3 linked regions of the Homo sapiens genome follow. The protein of the gene in region 3 purifies or fractionates together with the protein of the main gene of each other region. This does not show direct contact. Each region holds a gene or a part of one and is shown on either strand. Other genes may lie near its edges. The genes, in order: KRT4, PGD and USPL1.

The links.
Region 1: the proteins of USPL1 (region 3) and KRT4 purify together in Homo sapiens (affinity purification with mass spectrometry; one large-scale study listed by BioGRID and IntAct). This does not show direct contact.
Region 2: the proteins of USPL1 (region 3) and PGD purify together in Homo sapiens (affinity purification with mass spectrometry; one large-scale study listed by BioGRID and IntAct). This does not show direct contact.

What each region holds. Positions count from the first base shown.
Region 1 is NC_000012.12:52,808,440-52,811,130, forward strand, and holds part of KRT4 (keratin, type II cytoskeletal 4), read right to left. Parts: intron 2,378-2,691; coding exon 2,317-2,377; intron 1,040-2,316; coding exon 944-1,039; intron 412-943; coding exon 247-411; intron 1-246.
Region 2 is NC_000001.11:10,408,941-10,412,597, forward strand, and holds part of PGD (6-phosphogluconate dehydrogenase, decarboxylating), read left to right. Parts: intron 1-2,477; coding exon 2,478-2,612; intron 2,613-3,657. UniProt on the Homo sapiens protein: Catalyzes the oxidative decarboxylation of 6-phosphogluconate to ribulose 5-phosphate and CO(2), with concomitant reduction of NADP to NADPH.
Region 3 is NC_000013.11:30,624,302-30,627,958, reverse strand, and holds part of USPL1 (SUMO-specific isopeptidase USPL1), read right to left. Parts: intron 1-3,657. UniProt on the Homo sapiens protein: SUMO-specific isopeptidase involved in protein desumoylation. Specifically binds SUMO proteins with a higher affinity for SUMO2 and SUMO3 which it cleaves more efficiently. Also able to process full-length SUMO proteins to their mature forms.

The sequences.
Region 1 (2,691 bases), on a different chromosome or scaffold from region 3:
GAGAACCAGGTGTTAGGGGCATTTGGGTAGGGTCCATTCTCAAGTGAACTCAGTGAGAATTGCCACAGGTGGCAAGAATAGCACCAAATGTCAAGTAGTTTCAAATCAGACCAGGACCAACGATGCCTGGGAGAGTCTGTTCATATCTGACTTCTATTGGGCTTGAGCTAATGATCACCTGTTCACAGACATCAAAAGCAGAGCCCCAGAGCCAGCCCCATCTCCTGAGAGATCCATACCACCCACCTTGGTCTGGTACAGGGCTTCAGCCTCAGCCTTGCTCCTCTGGGCAATCTCCTCGTACTGGGCACGGACCTCGGCAATAATGCTGTCCAGGTCCAGGTTGCGGTTGTTGTCCATGGAAAGGACCACGGACGTGTCGCTGACATGGGTCTGCATCTGGGACAGCTCCTGCAGGGCAAATGTCTCACATCAGCCCCCCCAGGAAAGCCTTCACTGACCTGATACAGGCTCAAGTAGGAGCAGAGCTGGCATTCACAATGTGTAGGAAGGGGAGAGACAGGTAAAGTTCTAAGGAGAAATCAAGTGGTTGTGACAGTTCAGGATGGAAGAGCAATGCTTCTAGTCTTTACTGGTCCCCAGGAACCATAAGCCACTCTAATGCAGTGAGTGCCGGTGTGTTGGAATGGAAGGGAAGGGAATGGATCCATTTCACCAGAAAAAAAATGCTAGACAGCAATGAATTCTATTCCAAGCACTCTTTAGATCTAATCACCCCGTCTAAGACCAAGACCACATCTGGTTCTAAGAATCTCCCAGTTGAATTTCCCACTTCAAACCTTTCTATGCATGACCTTGATGAGAACCCACTGCCCTAAAATAAGGGAGCTGGAGTCCTTTCAAAAAACTGTGAATCCCAACCAGCAGCGTCACAGATGGGGGATTCCCTTTCCCTGGATGGAGGGGAGGATGGAGCCCTCACCGCATCATAGAGGACCTTCAGGAAGTTGATCTCGTCATTAAGACTGTCCACCTTGGCCTCCAACTCCACCTTGTTCAGGTAGGCAGCATCCACGTCCTGCAGAGGAGTAAGGAGGATAAGAGATGAGGAGCAGGAATGCCAGTAGGAGGACGGGTTACTAAGTGACACCGACAGGTGTTCTCAGCAGCATTTAGGAAAGACTACTCAGCAGCAGGGGAGCTGGTGGGAGACCAATTATTTTATATATTCTTCCCTAGAGCCACCTGAAGACATGGAAGTTGATTATCCAAATAGGCTATTCTAACAGTATGGAGATCTCTCAAAGAACTAAAAATAGAACTACCATTGGATCCAGCAATCCCAGTGCTGGAATTCCACTCAAAGGAAAAGAAATCATTGTAACAAAAGGATACCTGCACTCATGTTTATCGCAGCACAATTCACAATAGCAAAGATACCAAATCAACCTAAGTGTCCATCAACAGATGATTGGATAAAGAAAATATGATACATATACACAATAGAATACTACTCAGCCATAAAAAGAGAATGAAATTATGTCTTTTTGCAGCAATGTGGATGGAACTGGAGGCCATTATCTTAAGTGAAACAACTCAGGCACAGAAAGACAAATAACACATGTCCTCACTTATAAGTGGGAGCTAAATCATGTGTACATGTGGACATAGAGCATGGAATGATAGACAATGGAGACTTGAAAAAGGGAGGGCTGGGAGGGGCTGGATAATGAGAAATTACTTATTGGATATAATGTATGTTATCCCAGCAATGGATACTCTAAAAGCCCTGACTTCACCACAACACAAACTATCCACGTAACAAAATTACACTTGTACCCCATGAATTTATAAAAATAAAAATCAGCTGGGTGCGGTGGCTCACAACTGTAACCCCAGCACTTTGGGAGGCTGAGGCAGGCGGATGACCTGAGGTCAGGAGTTTGAGACCAGCCTGACCAACATGGAAAAACCCTGTCTCTACTAAAAATACAAAATTAGCCAGGCGTGGTGGTGCATGCCTGTAATCCCAGCTACTCGGGAGGCTGAGGCAGGAGAATCGCTTGAACCCAGTAGGTGGAGCTTGCAGTGACCCAAGATCGCGCCATTGCACTGCAGCCTGGGCAAAAAGAGTGAAGCTCCATCTCAAAAAAAAAAGCAAATAGGCTTTCCTCCCAACCTTAATTTCTTAGAACCTGGTTTGGTTACCCACTTTCCTTGACTATATAGATCTAGATAGTTCCAAGTGAAGCAGGGATGAGGCAGAGATGGACCAAACCCATGACTTCAGCCAAAGACCACTCCCCAAGGGAAGGGGCACCCTGAAGGCACTCCCTACCATCCTTCGTCTCTTACCTTCTTTAGGACCACAAAGTCATTCTCGGCTGCTGTGCGTTTGTTGATCTCCTCTTCATACCTGGGGGTGGGCACGGGGAGAAAAAGACAAAAACCCACAGTGAGCTGGTGTTTCTCAGATCTCTGCTGCTTGTTTTCAAGCATTTCCAAACAAATTTGGAAATATCCACGTAATTAGTTGCATTTCCCATATTCATACAGATATTCATTTAACCTATATTCATTGAATATAGGAAGTACCCGTTTAGGCCAGGGTTTATTCAGATACATGAAAACCAAACTTTAAAGAGACTGTTTTCGATAGAAAACCCAGCAATGATGTAGTTGATTTAATGTCCCTGAAAGGGCTGTCCTTTTGGCCATTTTGGCAGATTA
Region 2 (3,657 bases), on a different chromosome or scaffold from region 3:
ATATTGTAGTTCAGCCATGCTGTGGATGGAAAAAAGCATTAGGCTCAGGAGACCTGAGTGGCAGTTCTGGCTTTCCATAAACTTAACTGTGACATCAGGCAAGCCACGTCCCTTCATGGACTTCAGTTTCCTTATCTGTAAGATATGGGGTTGGATTACATGATCTCCAAGCTCTCTTCAGCTCCTGATTCCCTTTAATTTTATATCAGCAATTTTAATGTGAATTTTATTATTCAATTTTATTTTATATGAAATCAATGCTGAGGTTGAAATAAGGACTCAGGCCTTTGAGGAATCCGGGAAGCCCTCCCTCCTAGGCCTGCCAGTGCTTGGTGGCTTTGGCCACAGCAGCTCACTTGTCCTTACCTTTTCACCAGTGGTTGGCCATTGAGCTCAGTCAGAATCTGCTTAGGGTAGAAAGAGGCTGGTGCTGGGACTGACGTAAAGAGCTGAGTAATCTTCTCATTAGTGTGAAGGATTGGAAAGGGACCTCTGTTCCCTGACAGTAGATTACTGCGGTAAAAGGCCGGGTGTAGTGGCTCGTGCTTATAATCCAGTATTTTGGGAGGATCCCTTGAGCCCACGAGTTCAAGGCTGCAGTGAGCAGTGATCATACTACTGCACTCTGGCCTGGGTAACAGAGAGAGACCCTGTCTCTTAAACAGAAAAAAACAAAAAGATCACTGCAATAAAAGTGAGTGGTAGCAACTTTTTTTTTTTTTTTTTTTTTTTTTTGAGACAGTCTTGCTTTATCGTCCAGGCTGGAGTGCAGTGGCATAATCTCAGCTCACTGCAACTTCCGCCTCCTGGGTTCAAGCGATTCTCATGCCTCAGCCTCCATTGTAGCTGGGATTACAGGCATGTGCCACCATGCCTGGCTAATTTTTGTATTTTTGGTAGAGATGGGGTTTCACCATGTTGCCCAAGCTGGTCTTAAACTCCTGACTTCAAGTAATCGGCCCACCTTGGCCTCCCAAAGTGTTGGGATTATAGGCGTGAGCCACCGCACCCAGCCTGCAACTTTTTTTTAGATACACACACTTAGGACAAAGTCATGAAGAGAAGCACAGTCCTTGCCCCTACGTGTGTTGATCAAGCAGGCCCTCCTTAGTTCATGGCTGAAGTGGCAGGAAGGGTAAGGTGAAGTAAGATGTTAGCAGCCATGTTACTCTGTGGCCAGAGTGTCAAAATCAGAAGTCAGCAGGGGCAGCAATAGAAACATGGACAAGGCCAGGCGTGGTGGCTCATGCCTGGAATCCCAGCACTGTGAGAGGCTGAGGTGAGTGGATCACCTGAGGTCAGGAGTTTGAGACCAGCCTGGCCAACATGGTGAAACTCCATGTCTACAAAAATTAGCTGAGTGTGGCGGTGTGCTCCTGTAATCCCAGCTCATCAGGAGGCTGAGGCGTTAGAATTGCTTGAACCCAGGAGGCAGGTGTTGTGCTGAGCCAAGATCACACCGCTGCACTCCAGCCTGGGCGACAGAGCGAGACTCCGTTTCAAAAAAAAAAAAGAAACACGGACAATGGAGTCCTGATGTGAGCGTCAGTTATACAACTGACGGTCCAGGTGGTGACAGCCAGGAGAGAGACTGCCCAGGTCATCCAAACACCTGGCCTCCTGGGCAGGTGTGTCCCTGTCATGGAGCTGGGTGTAGATGACTGAGAGTTTGATGCCATGAACTGTTTGGCTCTCGTCACTCCCTTTGTTCCAGTTCTTGACAACTAAATAATTTTCGGATAATCTGGCTTCCCAGTTGCTTGTCTATAGGGCCAGAATGTGTTGACCGGACTAACATTTGTAACCACGAAGATCCATAGTTAAGGTTTTCATCCTACATTCATTAACGGGTATTCTGATTTTATACATCTTGCCAGCTTATAAATAAAGATCTGGTCTTTATTTATAAATATAAATATAAATATAAATATAATGATGGGGCCTTGGAGGGACTCCTTTCTGGGCTTACAAGGTTGAGACCTTGGATCTAGGGTCATTTTACTTTTCAGTAGCCATTAGGAACAACTACAATACATTTATATTTTGAAAAAAAACAAGTGATTTAATTGGCCAATATATTTTAACCTCTAGTTGCTAGAAAAGTGGTAACTTTGGGAAAAAGAGGACTTTTTTTCTTGTGGGTGGGGGCTGGGAAGGTGGGGAGTTGCTTTGAATGATGAGAAAGAGTAGAAAATACAGGCTAGAGAGCCATAAGTATTGAAAGTGAATTCAGGGACTTTGAGAAACCTTGAGAAGAATGAGTCTAGAATTAGTGTTAAATAATATTGTACTGGACTGAAGCTTGCTTTGAATTGCTATATGATTCTTGTATCAAAAATGCTGTACTCATTTTATACTTGTTATTTTTTGTGTGGAGAGGTAGCCTTGCCAGGGATGTTGGCATGAAAGCTGATGTGGACTTCTCTGATGTGTCGCCTGTTTCTCTGAAGGCCTCTTGGTGCTTGTTGTCCTGACAGGTGGGAGATGAGGGAGCAGGCCACTTCGTGAAGATGGTGCACAACGGGATAGAGTATGGGGACATGCAGCTGATCTGTGAGGCATACCACCTGATGAAAGACGTGCTGGGCATGGCGCAGGACGAGATGGCCCAGGTGAGGCCCCGGCACTGCCTCTGTGTCCGTTCTGCAGGGAGTGCTCACTTTGCCACAGACACCGAATCTTTTCTTCATTCCTATCCCCTTGGCCATTCGGGTGGCCTGCATGGACTCAGCCTAATTTGAGGGAAACTGTTAGTAATAGGCCTATACACTATGCTAGTCAGTCACTAAGCAGAAAGTCCCCACAGAGTCTGGGTGGTTATCATCACCACCATTTAGCGTAGCTTACCTGGTGTCAGGCACTGTGTCACTCCACATACCTGTCCCATTTACTCCCACAGTTGTCCCACATGGCAGATGCAGCAGAAGCTTTCTTTCCTGATCAAGTTGGGATTGGCTTTTTGATAGTTAATCTGAAAAGTCAGTCCAAGTAGGGAAGCTGAAGCATTTCCCCCAACATTTTATTATGACAATATTCAACCATGCAGCACAGAAGTTTGAGAGTTTTACAGTGAACACCTGGATACACACCTCCTCCTTTCTCCCATCCACAGGTTCCTGTACTTGCTTTAGCAATGTCTGTCCATCCCCCACCAATTTCATCTTATTTTTTGGATACATTCAAAGTAAACTGCAGGTATCCATACTTTTGTTTTCCCTAAATACTTTAGATGAATGTATCTTTATCATGAGGTAAACATAGATTTTAACTGAAAACATAGGAAAGGACTTTCATTCACCCGCCATTTTTTGGAGGGCCAAGGCCTTCTCGTTAAGTATGGTTTGCTGATGCGCTTTCTAGTCGTGTCTTACCATCTAGAATTTCTAGTTTCAGTTATTTCCAATGGGATGTGATTTACAGACTCTAGCAAGGCATACAGTATAGCTTTCCAGATTTTTTGTTGTTTTCCTCCTAGTTTTTTATTCATGTCATCCTCACTTACTTTGACTATTGTTTGTTTCACTGGATTGCTGTTAATTGTTCTTTCTAAAACATTACCTTAGTTTTCTTTCACAGAAACAGTGCTATTCTTTTTGTGTTCATTTTTTATTGGTATATATAATACTTAACGTGTTCACTCAGCAAACACACGAGTGC
Region 3 (3,657 bases):
TTGCAGCGAGCCGAGATCATGCCACTACACTCCAGCCTGGGCGACAGAGACTCCATCTCAAAAGAAAAAAAAAGAAAAGAAACAGAAACTAGAATGGTTGCCAGAAGCTGGGGGAGAGGAAAATGGGAAGTGGTTGTTTAATGGGTACAGAGTTTCAGTTTTGCAAGATGAAAAAAGTTCTAGAGATCTGCTGCACAAGTGAATATACCTAATACTCCTGAACTCTATACATAAAAATGGTTAAGTTGATGAATTTTTTTACAATTTAAAAATTAATACAAATTTTTTTAAGAGAAAAAAAAATCCTGAGACGAAAACCCTTTGTGAATCTCAAGTAGTCAAGATCATGGTATATGCATCCTACTTACACCTCTACTTTATTCAAAACATAATAAACCCTTGGTTCCAAAGGAATGCATATTAAAAAAAAAAAAAGAACAAAACAGTAATAAACCATAAGAGGCCCCGGGACTGCAAAACTTAGTGATTTCCACCCACACTCTTCGCAAGTGTCTTCACTGACTTTTCTCTATATAATCTGTGCTCCCACCATAGGCCAATCTGTAATATAATTTGTCCTTGCCCTGATTTTTCCCTTATAAATTAATGATTTCAGATTTTTATCTTTTTTCTTTTTATAAAATTTTGTTGCCTCTTTCCACATGTTCTAAATATTTGTATCTCTGTATACCTGACTTGTTTCTATTTACAGTGAACATGTATCATTTTTATAACTAGAATAAAGCTTTTAAGCTGTCTTCAAAAAAGTCATAAAAATATACACAAAGCATTAGTATTTTAGCCCAGCGCAACCATCTAGTATCATTTAAAATCCAATGCTGAAAAAAACCTAATCCTGTCTCTTTCACTGAGTTTTGGAGCAGCTTAAGTAAATTCCTGTACTTATTCTTGTGAAATAGGAAAAAGGAAAACATACCATGTCTTCTTATACTTGTATAAGTAATTATCAACAAGGTATGGCCAAAGACAAATTATAATAATAATGTACTCATTTTACAAATGGAGAAAACAAAAAAAGTTTTCTTTGATTACTCAACATTAATGATTTAAAATTTTTATTATAAATTTCATGGGTTTTTAAAAAAGACTAATTAAATGTTCCAAAGTAAACGCTGAATGATAGACTACTCCACGAAAAAAAAAAAGTTAAAACTTCCTACTGTTTAAAAACACTTGAGAGTTTCAATTTGGTATAATTTTGGACCAGTCTTGAATATTAGTGTTTACAAATCAAGGAACATTTTAATGTAAATACCTGACTAAAAGAGGTTTTCCAAATGGTTCTTTGCAATTTACAGCAGAGTAAACTCCAAATTTTATAACGGAACTCTTTGGAAATAATTTGATTCAGAGGACTTATACAGGGATCAGCAAAGTTTACTGATAAAGGGCTAGATAATAAATATTTAGATTTTATGAGCTACATAGTCTGTCACAACTACCCAACTCTGTTGTTGTATGCAAAAGAAGCCATGAACAATACATAAATGATTGAGCATGGCTATGTTCCGGTAAAACTTTATTTATGAACACTGAAATTTGAATTTCATTTAATTTTCACATATTATGAAAGGGTATTCTTCTTTTGATTTATTTATTTATTTATTTATTTATTTATTTATTTTGAGATAGAGTCTCCTCTGTCGCCCAGGCTGGAGTGCAGTGGCTCAAATCTTGGCTCACTGCAACTTCTGCCACTGGCTTCAAGCGACTCTCCTGCCTCAGCCTCCCAAGTAGCTGGGATTACAGGCATATGCCACCACACCCGGCTATTTTGTATTTTTAGTAGAGACAGGTTTTCACCATGTTGGCCAGGCTGGTCTCGAACTCCTGACCTCAAGAGAATCCACCCACCTTGGCCTCCCAAAGTGCTGGGATTACAGGTGTGAAACACTGCACCTGGCCCTTCTTTTGATTTTTTCTGGCATTTTTTATTTTGATATTTTCCTAACCATTTAAAAAACAAAAAAATCATTCCTTGTTTGTGCATCATACAAAATGTCTGCTCACTCCTGGTGTAAACCAATCTACTTCATAAAGTACACTGGGCTCTCATTGCTGACTAGAAATTAAAAAAATAATAATAAATTACTCATGTTCCTTTTTAACATTTCCAAAGTATATACTTAAAATTCTTGATTATATATTTTTTGCTTTATCACTTGAAAAAGAATGCTTCAAAAACCAAAACTCCGGGCTGGGCGTGGTGGCTCACACCTGTAACCCCAGCATTTTGGGAGGCCGAGGTGGGTGGATCACCTGAGGTCAGGAAATCAAGCCCATCCTGGCCATAGTGAAACCCCGTCTCTACTAAAAATACAAAAATTAGCTGGGCTGGGTGGCACATGCCTGTAATCTCACCTACTGAGGAGGCTGAGGCAGGAGAATCCCTTGAACCAGGGAGTCGGAGGTTGCGGTGAGCCGAGATCGCACCACTGCACTCCAGCCTCGTGACAGAGCGAGACTCCGTCTCAAAAAAAAAAAAAAAAAAAACAAAAAACAAAAAACCAACTAAAAATCTATGTAGTACATCTAACTTTAATAGCCAAAAACCTAACTCCTGGGGACAAGGACTTCTCTATTCTTACAGTCCTGATCTTCTCCCCAAAACCTTGCTCTTCCAAGTCTTCCCAGCTCAGTAATTCACGATTCCATTCTTCTAATTTTTCAAGCCAAAAATCTTGGAACTATCCTTGATTCCTCTTTCCAACCCCATATCCCAATCTTTCAGCAAATCCTGTTGGCTTTACCTTCAAAGTATAAATAAACTCCAACCATGCCTCAACACCTCTGCCACCACCCTCTCCCCCAGAATACTGCAACTGCCTTCAACTAGTCCAAAGGGAAAAAAGCTTTTTTTCCTTTCTACTTATCAATCTAAATAAAAAGAAAAGAGAAGCTTCTAAAAAGAAAGTGACATTTATTCAGGAATAAAGTATTCCAATGGGAATACACATGCCATAGTAAACTGTGTGTGTTCAGGGAGGTAAGGGAAGACAAAAGGTTTTTAAAGGAAAATAAGGAGGATCACATACTTGTTTTGAGATAATTACCCTTGGCTACAAGGATCAATAACAAGGATGACACCCGTCCACAGATGGACCAGGCAGTTGCTGGGCAGATGTCCTTGCAGAAGTATTTTCTGTGTATTTATTTCATGATGTATTTTCTGTGTATTTCAGAAGTATTTCATGATGGCCTTTGTGCAAGGGTGTGGTTTTTGCAGAGTCTTTTGAGATATTTTGGTATTTATGCATGAAAGCTCTCTCTTCATAGCCTTTCCTGGATCTATTTGTCTTTTTTTTTTCTTTTAATAGAGACAGGGTCTCACACTCTGTCATCCTGACTGGAATGCAGTGGCACAATCACAGCTCACTGCAGCCTGGACCTCCTGGGCATGGTGCCGTGCACCCGTAGTCCCCCTCCCGGGTAGCTGGGGCTACAGACTCACACCACCATGCCCAGCTAATTTAAATTTTTTTTTTTGTAGAGACAAGGCCACACTATGTTGCATGGGCTGGTCTCCAATTCCTGGGATCAAGCAATCCTCCTGCCTCAGCCTCCCAAAGTGTTGGGATTACAGTTGTCAGCCACTGTGCCTGGCCAGTCAGGATTTTTTTTTCTTTTTTAACACAA